Linked DNA regions of Homo sapiens: region 2 is linked to region 1. The links come from fine-mapping of genetic effects on gene expression. Tissue or cell type: whole blood. Region 1 holds a variant in brackets; the other region holds the start of a gene. All regions are shown on one strand. Distances are from middle to middle.

Region 1 (8,109 bases):
AGGGAGAGGCGCGAGCGGGAACCGAGGCTGCCTGCGGCGCTTGTGGGCCAGCTGGAGTTCCGGGTGGGCGTGGACTTGGCGGGCCCCGCACTCGGAGCAGCCAGCCAGCCCTGCTGGCCCCGGGCAGTGAGGGACTTAGCACCCAGGCCAGTGGCTGCAGAGGATGTACTGGGTCCCCCGGCAGTGCCAGCCCACCGGTGCTGCACTCCATTTCTCACCGAGCCTTAGCTGCCTTACCGCGGGGCAGGGCTTGGGACCTGCAGCCCGCCATGCCTGAGCCTCCCACCCACTCCATGGGCTCCTGTGCAGCCCGAGCCTCCCCCACGAGCATCACCCCCTGCTCCATGGCACCCAGTCCCATCGACCACCCAAGGGCTGAGGAATGCGAGCACACGGCGCGGGACTGGCAGGCAGCTCCACCTGCAGCCCTGGTGCGGGATCCACTAGGTGAAGCCAGCTGGGCTCCTGAGTCTGGTGGGGATGTGGAGAGTCTTTATATCTAGCTCAGGGATTGTAAATACACCAATCAGCACCCTGTGTTTAGCTCAAGGTTTGTGAGTGCACCAATCAACACTCTGTATCTAGCTGCTCTGGTGGGGCCTTGGAGAACCTTTATGTCTAGCTCAAGGATTGTAAATACACCAATCAGCACTCTGTATCTAGCTCAAGGTTTGTAAACACACCAATCAGCACCCTGTGTTTAGCTCAAGGTTTGTGAGTGCACCAATCGAAACTCTGTATCTAACTAATCTGATGGGGACGTGGAGAACCTTTGTATCTAGCTCAGGGATTGTAAACGCACCAATCAGCGCCCTGACAAAACAGGCCACTCAGCTCTACCAATCAGCAGGATGTAGGTGGGGCCAGATAAGAGAATAAAAGCAGGCTGCCCTAGCCAGCATTGGCAACCCGCCCGGGTCCCCTTCCACACTGTGAAAGCTTTGTTCTTTCGCTCTTTGCAATAAATCTTGCTACTGCTCACTCGTTGGGTCCACGCTGCTTTTATGAGCCGTAACACTCACCGCGAAGATCTGCAGGTTCACTCCTGAGCCCAGCGAGACCACGAACCCACCGGGAGGAACGAACAACTCCAGACGCGCTGCCTTAAGAGCTGTAACACTCACTGCGAAGGTCTGCAGCTTCACTCCTGAGCCAGCGAGACCACGAACCCACCAGAAGGAAGAAACTCCGAACACATCTGAACATCAGAAAGGACAGACTCCAGACGCGCCACCTTAAGAGCTGTAACACTCACCGCGAGGGTCCGTGGGTTCATTCTTGAAGTCAGTGAGACCAAGAACCCACCAATTCTGGGGACACTACCATGGCTCCAGGACTCAGTTCTTCACAGACCTAGCTTCTGGACTAGCAACCATACACCCAGCCTCCAGGCTGGCACCAGTGGACACAGGCTACAGGTAAGCCCCAACTAGGCACAATGCTAATGCCTAGTTCTAGACCCCTGAGGATAGCAAAATCCATGGATGCTCAATGTCTTATATAAAATGGTGTAGTATTTGCATATAATCTACACACATACTCCTTATGCCTCAGATTTTCTCTAGATACTCATAGTACCTAATATAAAATCTATATAAATATTTGTTACACTGTATTGCTTTTTATTTGCATTATTATCATATTATTATTTTTTTACTATTTTTGGCCCAGAGTTGAATCTGTGGATGTAGAACACACAGATATGGGGGGGTCAATTGTACACATTCTTCTCAAGCACACACAGAACGTTCTCCAGGAGAGTTCATATGTTAGGCCACAAGATAAATCTTAATAAATTTATGAAGCCTGAAATCCATTTCAAATACCTTTTCCGGCCACAATGGTATTATACTAACAATCAAAAATAGACAGAATTTCAGAAAATGCAGACGCATATGGTAATTAAACAACATTCTCCCAAACAACCAATGGGTCAATGTAGAAATTAAAGGGATCATTTAAAAATATCTTGAGGCAAATGAAGACGGAAACACAACATACAAAAATATATAAGATATATAGTATACAGCAAAAATGGTTCTAAGAGTGAAGTTTATAGCAATAAACATCTACATCAAAAAAGAAGAAAGATCTCAAACACCCTAACATTATAACTAGAAACTAGGTATAGGAACTACAATTGGAAACTAGAAAACCAGGAACTAGGAAAACAAGGACAAACTAAGCACAAAGTTCACAGAAGGAAGGATAAAATAAAGATCAGAGCAGAAATAAATGAAATAGAGACTAAAGAAACAATAGAAAAAAAATCAACAAAACTTGTGAAAAAGATAAAACAGACAAACTTTTAGCTAGAATAACTAATAAAAAAGGAGAGGAGATTCAAGTAAAATCAGAAATAAAAAAGGAAACATTATAATGGATACTACAGACATACAAATTATCATTAGAGACTATGATGACAATTATGTCAACAAATTAGATAACCTAGAAGAAATGAAAAAATTCCTACCTGTATTAATCCTACCAAGTATTAATCACAAAGAAAAAGAAAATCTGAACAGACTGATAACAGACTGATAAAATAGACTGACAACAGACTGATAACAAATAGACTGATTAAAAAAAAAGATTGAATCAGTAATAAAAAGTCTCCCATTAAAGAAAAGCCTAGAATCAGATGGCTTCTGGGCTGAATTCTACAAAACATTTAAATAAGAAATAGGACCAATCCTTATCAAACTCCAAAAAGTTGAAGAAAAAATATTTCCAAACACATCTTATGAAGCCAGCACTATCGTGACACCAAAGCCAGACAAGGACATACAAGAAAATTACAGGCTGGCCAGGCACGGTGGCTCATGACTGTAATCCCAGCACTTTGGGAGGCCGAGATGAGCAGGGCAGGAGTCTGAGACCAGCCTGGCCAACGTGGTGAAACCCCATCTCTACTAAAAATACAAAAATTAGCTGAGCATGGTAGCACATGCCTGTGATCCCAGCTACTCGGGAGGCTGAGGCAAGAGAATTGTTTGAACGTGGGAGGCGGCAGAGGTTGCAGTAAGCTGATATCATGCCACTGCGCTCCAGCCTGGGCAACAGAGTGAGACTCCATCTCAAAAAAAAAAAAAAAATTACAGGCTAATATCCCTGATGAACATAGATGCAAAAATCCTCAACAAAATACTAGCAAACTGAATTCAACAGCATATTAAAAGGATCATTCACTCACCACAATAAAGTGAGACTTATCTTTGAGATCCAAGGATGGTTCAACATATGCAAGTAAATATTAATACACCACATTAACAGAATAAAGGACAAAGACCATATATTATCTCAACAGATGCAGAAGAAGCATTTGACAAAATTCAATATCCTTTCATGATAAAAACTCTAACCATATTAGGCACTGAAGGAATGTAACTCAACACAATAAAGACTATATATGACAAGCTCACCATTAATATCATACACAAGAGTAAAAAATAGAAAGCTTTTTCCAAAAGTATCTCAGGAAAGGTACAAAGATGTCCACTCTTACGACTCCTATTCAATATAGTAATGGAAGACCTAGCCAGAGCAATCAGGCAAAAAAAGAAAGAGAAGCCATCCAAATTGGAAAAGAAGAAGCCAAATGGTTCCTGTTTGCAGATAACATGAAAACCCTAAAATGTCAGTGAAAACACTGCTAGAACTAATAAAATACAATAAAGTTACAGGATATAAAGTCAACATACAAAAATAATAGTTTCAGCCGGGCATGGTGGCTCACACCTGTAATCTCAGCACTTTGGGAGGCTGAAGCAATTGGCTCACTTGAAGTCAGAAGTTCAAGACCAGCCTGACCAACATGGTGAAACCCCATCTCTACTAAAAATACAAAGTTAGCCAGGCATGGTAGCACACATCTGTAATCCCAGCTACTTGGGGGACTGAGACAGGAGAATCACTTGAATCTGGGAGGCGGAGGTTGCAGTGAGCCGAGATTTCGCCATTGCACTCCAGCCTGGGAAACAAAAGCGAAACTGTCTCAAAAAAAAAAAAAAAAAAGTTTCTATACATTAGCATTAAACCATCTGAAGTGAAATAAAAAAGGCAACTGTATTTACGATAGCTATGAAAAATACTTATGAACAAATATAGCCAAGGAAGTGAAAGAGCTGTATATTGAAAATCATAAAACATTGATGAAAGAACTTGAAGACACAAATAAAAAGAAAGATATTCCATGTTCATGGATTGAAACAATATTGTTAAAATGTCCATACTACCAAAAGTGATCTACAGATTGAATGCAATCCCTATCAAAATCCCAATGACACTTTTCAAAGAAATAGATTAAAAGTCATAAAATTTTTATTGTACCACAAAACCCCAAATATCTAAAACATTTTTGAGGAAAATGAACAAAATGGAGGCATCATACTTCCTGACTTCAAAATATATTACAAATCTACAGTAATCAAAACAGCATGGTACTGCTATAAAAACAGACACATAGACCAAAGGAAGACAATAGATAGCCCCAAAATAAACTCACACATTTACCACCAATTAATGGATTTTTGACAAAGATGCCAAGAACACACAATGGGAGAAAAGATAGTGTCTTTAATAAATGGAGTTTAGAAATGTGGATTATACATGCAAAAGAATGAAATTAGACTCTTATACCATGTACAAAATCAACTCAAAATGGATTAAATTCTTTTTTTTTTT[C/T]CTTTTCTTTTTTTTGAGACAGAGTCTCACTCTGTCGCCCAGGCTGGAGTGCGGTGGCATGATCTCCGCTCACTGCAAGCTCTGCCTCCCAGGTTCATGCCATTCTCCTGCCTCAGCCTCCCGAGTAGCTGGGACTACAGGCACCCACCACCACGTGGGCCTGGCTAATTTTTTGTATTTTTAGTAGAGACAGGGTTTCACTGTGTTAGCCAGGATGGTCTCGATCTCCTGACCTCGTAATCTGCCTGCCTCGGCCTCCCAAAGTGCTGGGATTACAGGCGTGAGCCACCACGCCTGGCCATTCGGATTAAATTCTTAAATGTAATACCTGAAACTATAAAACTACTAGAAGACAACGTATAGGAAAAGCTGTGCAACTAGCTCTACCAAATATTAAAACATACTATAAAGTCTCTGTAGTTAAAAATGTGTTGTACTGGTACGTAAATTGAAAGACAGCCAAATGGAACAGAATAGAAAGTCTAGAAATAAACCAAAATACATATAGAAATTTAGTTTATTATATAGGTAACATCCCAACTAACTGGGAAAAAATTCTACTTTATAGTAAATGGTGTTGTAACAAATGGATAGTCATTTGGAAAAATATAAAATGTGGGAGTGGGAAAAGTCTCCATGAATCAAAATCTAGTATCAAGATAAGTCTGATAACATAGTACTTACAAATATGTTTTATGAAGTAAATGTCAACACAAAGCCAAAAGATAAATAACAAACTGGGAGAAAATAACTTGTATCACAGATAAAGGGCTAATCTCTCATATATATATATACACATATATATATACATATATATACACATATATATACGTATATATATACACATATATATATATATACGTATATATATACACATATATGTATATATACACACATATATACACATATATGTATATATACACACATATATATACATATATATATATGAAGAGGTCTATAAATTGAAGGGGGAGGGATAACCATTAGAAAAATGAAAAAAAAATTTGTTTAATTTATTTGTAGATTCTGGATATTAGCCCTTTGTCAGATGGATTGCAAAAATGTTCTCCCCATCAAAAAGTGGGTGATAGATATGAACAGACACTTCTCAAAAGAAGACATTTATGCAGCCAACAAACATATGGAAAAAAGCTCATCATCACTGGTCATTAGAGAAATGCAAATCAAAGCCACAATGAGATACCATCTTATGCCAGTTAGAATGGTGATCATTAAAAAGCCAGGAAACAACAGATGCTGGAGAGGATGTGGAGAAATAGGAATGCTTTTACACTGTTGGTGGAAGTATAAATTAGTTCAACCATTGTAGAAGACAGTGTGGTGATTCCTGAAGGATCTAGAACTAGAAATACCATTTGACCCAGCAATCCCATTACTGGGTGTATACCCAAAGGATTATAAATCATTCTACTATAAAGATACGTGCACACGTACGTGAATTGCACTATTCACAATAGCAAAGACTTGGAACCAACCTAAGTGTACACCAATGACAGACTGGATAAAGAAAGTGTGGCATATATGCACCATGGAATACTATGCAGCCATAAAAAGGATGAGTTCATGTTCTTTGCAGGGACATGGATGAAGCTGGAAGCCATCATTCTAAGCAAACTAACACAAGAACAGAAAACCAAACACCCCATGTTCTCACTCATAAATGGGAGTTGAACAGTGAGAACACATGGACGCAGGGAGGGCAGCATCACACACTGGAGCCTGTCGGTGGGTGGAGGGCTAGGGGAGGGACAGCATTAGGAGAAATACCTAATGTAGTGATGGGTTGATGGGTGCAGCAAACCACCATGGCACGTGTATACCTATGTAACAAAACTGCACGTTCTGTACATGTACCCCAGAACTCAAAGTATAATAAAAAAAATTTGAAAAATGAAAAAAAAAAACAGTTCAAAGAAAAATAGTCCTCAAACATAACAAAAGATCCTCATATTCACTCATAACCATAGTGTCAATTAAAACTGACAAGTCATTACTTACTTTCAGAAGCTTTACAACACATTGTAGGTGAGCCTTTATGAAAATAAATACAATCCCATCAAAGTTCCAATAAGCAACTGTGTAGAAATTCTAGTGCTGGAATAGTCAAAAACAACTTTAGAAAAGAACAAAACTAGAGGTCTTATACTATCTGATTTCAAGATATATAAAATTACTGTAATTAAAACTGTGTGGTATTGGTGAAGACACAGATACATACATCAATGAAACTGAACGGAGTCCAGAAATAGACCCACACTAAGATGGTCAATTTTTTTTTCCCACAAAAGTACCAAGGGAACAAAGAGAAGTCTTTAAAAAAAACAGTGCTGGAATAACTGAATATCCTTATGGGGGAAAAACAATAGCACCAACTTTACCTCATACTAGGAACAAGAAATTAACTCGAGATGGGTCACAGACCTAAATGAAGGAAGCTAAAAGTACAAATTTAAAAGAAAACAGGAGGAATGAATAAAATGAAGAAACTTAGGAGAAAATCTCTGTTACCTTCAAGGGGGTAGGGATTTCTTACTTTGCATACCCAAGGTATGAGCCATAAAGGAAAAATTGGTAAATTAAACTCCATTAAAATACAAAAAAAAAAATGTACTCTTGTAAAGATACTGCTAAGGAAACAGAAATGCAAGTGGAGAAAGAAAATATTCATAATACATATCTAATAAAGAATTTTATTCACAATAGGTATTTATTCACAATACATATCTGATAAAAAATACAAAAAAAATTAGCCAGGTGTGGTGGCACATGCCTGTAACCTTAGCTACTCAGGAGGCTGGGGTGGGAGGATTGCTTGAACCTGGGAGGCAGAGGTTGCAGTGAGCTGAGATCACACCACTGCACTCCAGCCTGGGCAAACAGAATACGTAAAGAATTCATACAAAACTACAGGGGCAGAAAACAGACCAGCAGTTGTCGAGGTCTAGGCATGGGAGGATTTCACAAAGGGGTACAAGGAAGACAAAGTAAGATACCCAAAATAGTATCTTCTGCATGATTCCATTCATATAAAGGTATAGGCAAAAATGACATCAATGGTTATAGGGGAGGGGTTTGTGATTGATTAGGAAAGGGCAAGAGGGAATTTTCTGGTGTTACAGAAATGTTCTGTGTCTTGATTAGGTGTGCACATTCTTTGAAACTGATCAAACTGTCACTCAAAATCTGAGCACTTCATTTCATGTAAACTGTATCTCAATAGAAAAACATTTTAGAAATCATTACAATTGCTATATACTGGATACAGACAATAATCTTAAACTACCCAGTGGTGGGGATGGTATCTTGTTCTCCTTTGTCTCTCAAACACCATGGAGCTTAGTGCATTGTGCATTGTTTTATATAAAGCACACGGCCCTGCAAATCTCAATTAATACATGATTAATT
Region 2 (8,095 bases), 640 kb before region 1:
TAAACTTATTTGGTTTAAGCTACCCAGTCCGTGGTAATTTGTTATGGCAGGTCAAGGAATCAAAATATAAAGACATTGATCTTAGTTTTTCTTTTTCACAGGACCAAGATACCACAGCATTTCCAAACACTTGAGGAAGTGAAGATACTCACCAGACTGGATGTAAGACGCAGCAAATGGGTGGTTCCTAAATTGCTGAAGTCCTCATATCTACTGCCTGCTTTAATGAACAAACCAATTCTTGATACAGGAGAATAGTTTTCCAAAGAAGCAATCACCAAGCCATTTGGTAACTTGGTAAACTGTATTTAAAATAAAGTAGAGATATAATGAATGTCTTCGTATTACCAAGGAGAGTAAGGCATGTATAGCTTCCAGCGAGCAAGTTAGTGGGACTAACCTCAAGGTCCTGAGGTTGTGGCGGTGCTCCTGCAGGCGCAGCTGTGGCTTTAACTTTGGGGGCAACTTTGAGGGAATAAAATCTCTAAACATAAAAAACACAGGTTACACGTATTTCTCACAAGAACAGTGCTTTATATAAAAGCATGGTATCTTAGGGTACCCAAGCGACAGAGGGTGTTCGGGGGTGGAAGGAGCAATAACCACCTCCATGGGAGGATTTACCTGCATAACATTTTTTTTTTTTTTTTGAGACAGAGTGTCTCTCTGTCGCTCAGGCTGGAGTGCAGTGGCGCAATCTCAGCTCACTGCAACCTCTACCTCCTGGGTTCAAGCCATTCTCCTGCCTTAGCCTCCCAAATAGCTGGAATTACAGGTGCGTGCCACCATGTCCAGCTAGTTTTTGTTTTGTATTTTTTAGTAGAGATGGGGTTTCACTGTGTTGGCCAAGCTGGTCTTGAACTCCTGATCTTAAGTGATCTGCCCACCTTGGTCTCCCAAAGTGTTGGAATTACAGGCGTGAGCCACTGCACCCCGCCTAGCTGCATAACTTATTATGGACTTACTAACCCACCAGTTTACCCAAGCCATTCTTAAACCTCTATTTATTAGTGATTTATAGAGTTCTTGATGCTTATTTTTTAAATGATGTAAAGAATCACTGTATTTTCTTATCTTTCAGTTACCTTATAAAAGTTTCATGGTTCTGTGTAGTTCTAAAGCTTTGGCATTTTTTGAAAAAGTGTCAGATCACCCCATCCACAACCTTTTTTGTTGAGTTGGAGTCGTGCTCTGTGTCCCACGCTGGAGTGCAACAGTGCGATCTCGGGTCATTGCAATGTCTGCCTCCTGGATTCAAGCGATTCTCCTGTCTCAGCCTCCCAAGTAGCTGGGATTACAGGTACATGCTGCCACGCCTGGCTAATTTTTTGTATTTTAGTAGAGATGGCGTTTCACCCCATAGCTCAGGCTGGTCTCAAACTCCTGAGCTCAGGCAATCCACCCGCCTCGGCCTCACAAAGTGCTAGAATTACAGGTGGGAGCCACCACACCTGGCCTGTGTCCACAACCTTTTATAGGTTTCAGCTTCTTGCTTCTTTTATCTGCCCAATGAATGTCATCCGTTCAGTCTAATTTCCAATTGAAATGGTTTCATCTCCTTAATCATCTTAGTAACCTTTAAAAAAGACAAACTAGCCGGGTGCGGTGGCTCACGCCTGTAATCCCAGCACTTTGGGAGGCCAAGGTGGGCGGATCACCTGAGGTCAGGAGCTCGAGACTAGCCTGACAAACATGGAGAAACCCCATCTCTAATAAAAACACAAAATAAGCGGGGCGTGGTGATGCATGCCTGTAATCCCAGCTACTGGGGAGGCTGAGGCAGGAGAATCACTTGAATCCGGGAGGCGGAGGTTGCAGTGAGCCGAGATTGTGCCATTGCAGTCTAGCCTGGGCAACAAGAGCAAAACTCCGTCTCAAGAAAAAAAAAAGAAAAAGACAAAGTATATACCAACTTCCTCCAAGCCCTCAATATTTTCCATTGTATCTTCACTCTTGTGTGCTGTATTAAGACCACACAACCAAAGGTCTTAGTTTTTTTGACTAAATAAAACATTTATGACATGTATGTCATCCTGAGATTAATAATGGCTTCATCCACATCAGATTCTCAATATATAAAATGCAGTTACTGGTAGGGTGAAAGGGTCCCATTAAATATTAGATAATGGACCCAAAATGCATTCATTTTATTCAGTTTGTTTTGGCAAATGTTATACAATGCCATACAAATCATTCTGATTATGACTAAAGTTCATGAGGTTATTAGAGGAGATGATGAGTGAATAAAATTTGGTGCTCCCAAGACCCAATGAACACCTCCTCACTGGAGTTTCCCGGACATCCCTGCACAGTCTGCAATGCCTCCACTCTGTGCTGTCCAGAAGGCTGTTTGTTGTACATCATTAGTGCTGTACTAGGTTGGCTGCTGGTTATCACTTGCTTTTAGTACTGCTTTTCAGTTATGAATTACAATTAGCTTTACTTTATCGTCATCAATTTAGTTTGCTGGGTATGGTATAGTTAACCTTCTTTGTAATTTTGGCCTATAATTTTCCAAAAAGTAAACTTTTAAGATATATGGGCATAGCAATTCAAATATGAATAATCTATAATTCCGTTACCAAGTGAGATTTTAGGTGTTTTCCAACCAAATGTGCCCAAATAGTAACTCTTTGTTGGTAATTTTTTTTTTTTTTTTTTTTTGAGACGGAGTCTCGCTCTGTCGTCTAGGCTGGAGTGCAGCGGTGCGATCTCGGCTCACTGCAACCTCCGCCTCCTGGGTTCAAGAGATTCTCCTGCCTCAGCCTCCTGAGTAGCTGGGATTAGAGGCGCCCACCACCACCACGCCCGGCTATTTTTTTTTTTTTTGTATTTTTAGTAGAGACGGGGTTTCACCATGATGGCCAGACTGGTTTCGAACTCCTCATCTCAAGTGATCCGCCTGCCTCTGACTCCCAAAGTGCTAGGATTACAGGTGTGAGCCATCGCGCTCCGCCGGTAATGTGCTTCTTAATCGTCCCATTCAAATCAGCAAATTATCCTAGTAACTGTCATGCAATCTTCTAAATTATTTTGTTCTAATAACAAGATATATCTAAGTTTATTCTCCTATATAAAGTGCTAAAATTAGACACATAAATAATTGCTTTCAAGTTTACTGCAATTTGTTTACTTTGGGCCTCTCCAACTGTTTTCTCTGAGCTTTTTCTGTTGCAAAATAGAATGGAGAAGGAAATGTTGGGGTCTTTTGCCAATCTAACCGTGCTTCCCTCCAAGGGTAATCACTGGTGTGTCTAGGTATACCTGGAAGGTTAATGCAATTACAGCCTAAATCGATATAGCCCACAGCACATTTATGTAAACATAAAGCATAAGAACATTCCATGCCCAGGTCTGGTCTTCTGCATCTCCATCTAGGGGGGTTTCTCAACACAGGTACTACTACTGGCACTTGGGGCTAGATAATTCTTTGCTGTAAGGCGAAGTTTAGCAGCATCCCTGGCCTCTCCATGCCAATAGCACCCTCCTTACAAGTTGTTGCAACTAAATATGTCTCCAAACATCGCCACCGGTTCCCTGGGGGCATTCTGTCCCTCGCTATGATTTTTTAAGTGTTCCCCCTTACCCCTCTTAATAACCACTGTCCCACAGTGATATAACCCTGATGTGTGAGTTTTCCCCAAGTGACAGCTATGTTTAATTTAGGCTTGAAGGGGAAACTTAATTAAGGAGCTTTTGAGGACAAACAGAGACGTCTTGGAGGAACCGTCTAACATACGATCAAGAAAAGCAACGTTAGACTACTAAGACACCATAGTATTTAACAATGAAGTTCCAGGTACTGTAATAAGTGTTCTATCTGCATTAGCTCCTTTCTTATACTTTTATTCGCTGGGGAAACTGACGCTCCGTGATAAACCAAGGAGCAGAGGCTGCAGCGGATAAAGTGAAGGTGGGGGGCTAAGTGCGCCGTCCTCCCGCTCCCCCTGGGTTTCACGGTCTCTTTCTCCAGCACTTGAGTACCGGAGTGACCTTCAGAAGTCTCTCCAAGGACTCGCTTCAACTCCGCTCTCACGTCCTGCCCCTCTCTTCAGGTTTCCCGGTGTTAGGTCTCTTGTGCTCACAGCATGAGCTGGGCCTCCAAAGCCTGACCCAGTCTGCAGCCCACTTGGCCCGCAGGGTTCAGCTGAAGGGCAGACCGAATCCCAAGGCCCAGACCCCAGACCAGACACCTCCGCCTCGTATCACCTTGTCGACACACTGCTCCCCAGCCCTTTCCCAAACCCGCCACCTGAGCTCACCGAGAAAGAGCCGGCTCTGGTTAGTAGCTTCATGATTCAAGATTGTTCTGACACACGGTCACTGCCGGATTAAAGGAAAGCAAGATGGTGGCGGAGGCCGGGAGTTTCCCAGCGTTCCCCGCTAACACTTTCCCACGTCCCCTTCGTGAGGTACTCTCTATACTGCCGCGCTCTACTGCTCTCTTTATAAGGTTGGACCAGTCCAATTCCTCCAAGACTCAGAATAGGGAGACGCACAATTTCCCAAGTAAATATATGCAGAGAATAATGTACGTCACTGCTTTTTGCGTTCTTCTCCTAGCCTGAATATCCAGTATGCACCCCTTTTCTAAGTACGTCTGCAGCAGCCTGTCACAACTCCCCCCGCTATCTTGGGCTCTTCCGCTCAGCATTGTCCAATGGGACGCGCCTCTCTTGGGACTCCGCATGCGCCCTCCGGGATGACACCTGCACTGGAGGCCCTGGGTTTCCGCGTTCCTGGACGTTGGAGGCTTCAGGAGATTCCTGCCACTCCACCTTTCTGCAGAGGTATTGGGTATCGAAGCCCGGCGTAGTTGCCTCTCGCTGGGTGAAGTCCTTACTGGATCTTTAGCTCCGTGAAACAGGGGCCTCGTTCAACGTATTCGCCGCTGTGTCCCCCAGAGCAGGCCCGGGACACACCGGGAGGGTCAGCAACCTCGGGGAATCATCACAAGGCTTTTGGTCTCGTGGAATTTACGTCCTAGGCTGGGGCTACATAGAATATAAAAACTTAGCTATAGTTTTTGTGTTAGGAAAATAGAAATGTTTTGGATAGTAGGTGTGTTATGTGAGCCGAAACCGGCAGTTGGAGAAAGTCAGTCACGTGACGACTTGGGGCGGGGGCGTTCACTCCGGTCCTCAGCGAGTGTTAACCCAGAAAGTGCCTTGAGCTAGGCACTATGCCAACGCGAGAGGCGTGGTCCCTGCCCTTTAGGGACTTTAGAGTTTCGTACCTTGCTACGTTGCTTGGTTGGGAAACCGACAGTATCAGCATCAATATCATTTAGGAGTTGATTAGAAATGTATGAACTCCAGGTCCCATATTGGATCCGAATCGGTGTTTTTACAAGATCCTGGGATGACTTCGTATGCACAATAGTTTCAGAAAGGCTGGTGGTGTAGACGTTACAAGGCATAGGCAAATGTACTTTCTTTTTGCCTTGTGTCTGAATTGCTCCAGGCCTACAACGGACTTGGGCTCTCTAATTAAGATCTGGGCATTAAGAACCTGGCACCAACCCAATTTCTGTGCCTGCTGGGGACGCCCTCAACCCAATTCATACCACACAGTTTCCCCACATGTGGTAGATTTAACACTAGTGGTGCGTGAGATGATTTTAAGTTGGTACATAGATGAACACTTCCATTTTTTCCTTTTAAAAATTTGTATAAATTTAAGGGGCGCAAGTACAGTTATGTTATATGGATATATTGCAGTAATGGTGAAGTCTGGGCTTTTAGTGTACCCATCACCCGAATAATGTACATGGTACCCATTAAGTACTTTCTCATCGTTCACCTCTCTCCCACCCCTCCACCTTTCGGAGTCTCCATTGTCTGTCATTCCACACTCTATGTCCATGTGTACACCTTATTTAGCACTGTTCCATTTTAATAATATATTTATTTTGATTATGGCAAGCAATGCTAGTAGTGAATTTCCTCTTTAAGTACATTTATAAAATAATAAAAGTTGGTGTAAAAACGTTAAGTAACTTGATGATACGGAGATACAGCAAAAATCATGAATGTGTTATACAGGTACCATTGAGTGAAATCTGGGAAGCAGTGCTCTGATCAAGCCACCTGCCTGCTTAAAATTCTTCAACGACAGCCACGTTTTTCAGGATAAAATTCAAATTCATTAACATGGCATACAAAGCTGTCTCCAGTACTTCAAAACCCCAATTCCCAAGTTAGCTAGCTGCACCCCTGAGTCCAATCATTGTAACTTCATCATTCAACAGTTCAGGTCAGGTAGGAGGAACACAAAAGTCTCCACACTCAAGTGCACACACACACACACACACACACACACCCACACCTGCTTATAATGTCCTCTCATTCTTAGGTTATGACCCAATATCAGAAAGGGGCAAAAATAAATTCTGTTCAAAATGTGGCAGGATTTGAAACATAATTCATGATATCAGCTACATAAATCATAAAATCCCAAGTTTGTCAATTGCAAAATGTCCTATTAAGCATTAAGCTACAAATTAGGAGTGCCATCTTGTGGACACATCCACCACTTCCACATCATGTCACCTCCTAGCCAACTCCGTGGCTGTTCTCACTGTGGAGGTCTCTGCCACAACTCCAGCATTTTATTGCAGAAGAAAACCCAGTCCTTGAACTGGTTTCTGCGTAGAACACACTGAAAGCCCTGGGAGAGGAAACCAGCAGACAGGAAAAGAGTAGACATGGAAGAGCAGATGAGTTCATTGCTGGAAAGCTCGAATTGTTAGTTTCGTTAATGTGGGGTCCAATTTGACTCTATGGAGCCTAACTACCTAGCCTGAGCGCTCGCGGTGAGTATGGGGTGGGAGAATGTAAAGAGAAAGCAGGCAACAGTAGGAGTAAAACACACCAGAGGAAGGTGATGTGGGTTTATACTTGGGAACAACATTACCTTGCCATCTTAGGGCCAGAGGCATTAATCATGGCTTCCCCAATGCATAATTTCGATGTTGGCATTTCCTTCCCCATTCCTTTCAGAATCCTACCCTGTCAGGTATTATCTCTGATGAAATATTCCCTGGGCCAGGCACAGTGGCTCATGCCTGTAATCCCAGCACTATGGGAGGCCAAGGTGGGTGGATCACCTGAGGTCAGGAGTTCAAGACCAGCCTGGCCAACGTGGCAAAACCCTGTCTCTACTGAAAAAAAAATACAAAAATTAGCCGGGCATGGTGGCAGTTGACTGAAATCTTAGATACTCGGGAGGCTGAGGCAGGGAGAATTGCTTGAACCTGGGAGGCGGAAGTTGCAGTGAGCCGAGATCACTGCCATTGTACTCCAGCCTAGGCGACACAGCGAGACTCTGTCTCGGGGGGGAAAAAAAAGTTCATATCAATTTCTAATATTCTATAATTATTGTTTTTGGTCACATATACTTTTTCCATGTATTGAGGTGAACAGATTGGTCTTATTCTGTGTTAAGTTATATTGATTGATTCAAATTATAAATAAACCTTTCATTCCTGTTATAAACCCAACTTGGTCTGGATGTTTTATTCTTTTAATATATTGCTAGACCTAATTTGCTACTTATTTGTTTAGGATTTGTGCATTTATGTTCCAGAGTGATACTGGCTTTAACTTTCACTTTCATTCCCCCCATTCATGCATTTTTCTGTCATAGATAAAATGAGTTAGGAAGTGTGAAAGGAAAAAAAATCTCAGGGCCTCCAAATCACTAAGCCAAAGGGAAAATTCAAGCTGGGAATGATGTCAGACAAACCTGCCTCCCGTTTTATTCCTAAATAAGATAGCTATAAGGATAAAAAGCTACATAACTTACCTTACAATTTGCCCACAGGGCAATTCCATGTGGATCTGAGGATCTTTACCCTAAAACAGTTTTGTTGAATTTCACCCTGGCAATGTAAATTGATAGCTGTCTTCCTTCCTTCCTTTCCTTTTCTTCCTTTCCTTTCTCTCTCTCTCTCTGTCTCTCTTTCTCTGTTTCTCTCTCTCCCTCCCTTCCTCCCTCCCTCCTCCCTCTTTTTTTTTTTTTTTTTTTTTTTTTTGGAGAGTTTCACTCTTGTTGCCCAGGCTGGAGTGGAATGGCATGATCTGAGCTCACTACA

The links. PIP is the estimated chance that this variant, and not a neighbour inherited with it, causes the effect.
Region 2: UQCRC2 starts here. The variant in region 1 is fine-mapped to the expression of UQCRC2 in whole blood (TOPMed, PIP above 0.99).

Annotation. Positions count from the first base shown.
Region 1 is chr16:21,305,057-21,313,165 of GRCh38, reverse strand. It overlaps the pseudogene ABCA15P. Among named protein-coding and RNA genes, the nearest start is that of CRYM, 31 kb to the right of the region's middle. The variant C/T (reference allele first, on the strand shown) is at 4,684.
Region 2 is chr16:21,949,624-21,957,718 of GRCh38, reverse strand. It overlaps UQCRC2 (ubiquinol-cytochrome c reductase core protein 2), which reads right to left and starts at 4,358. Exons shown (of 14, transcript NM_003366.4): 1 at 4,263-4,358; 2 at 401-484; 3 at 153-302. The coding sequence starts at 4,295. It also overlaps a transcript of PDZD9 not described here. RefSeq lists enhancers at 4,016-4,065, 4,076-4,245, 3,760-4,477, 4,566-5,025.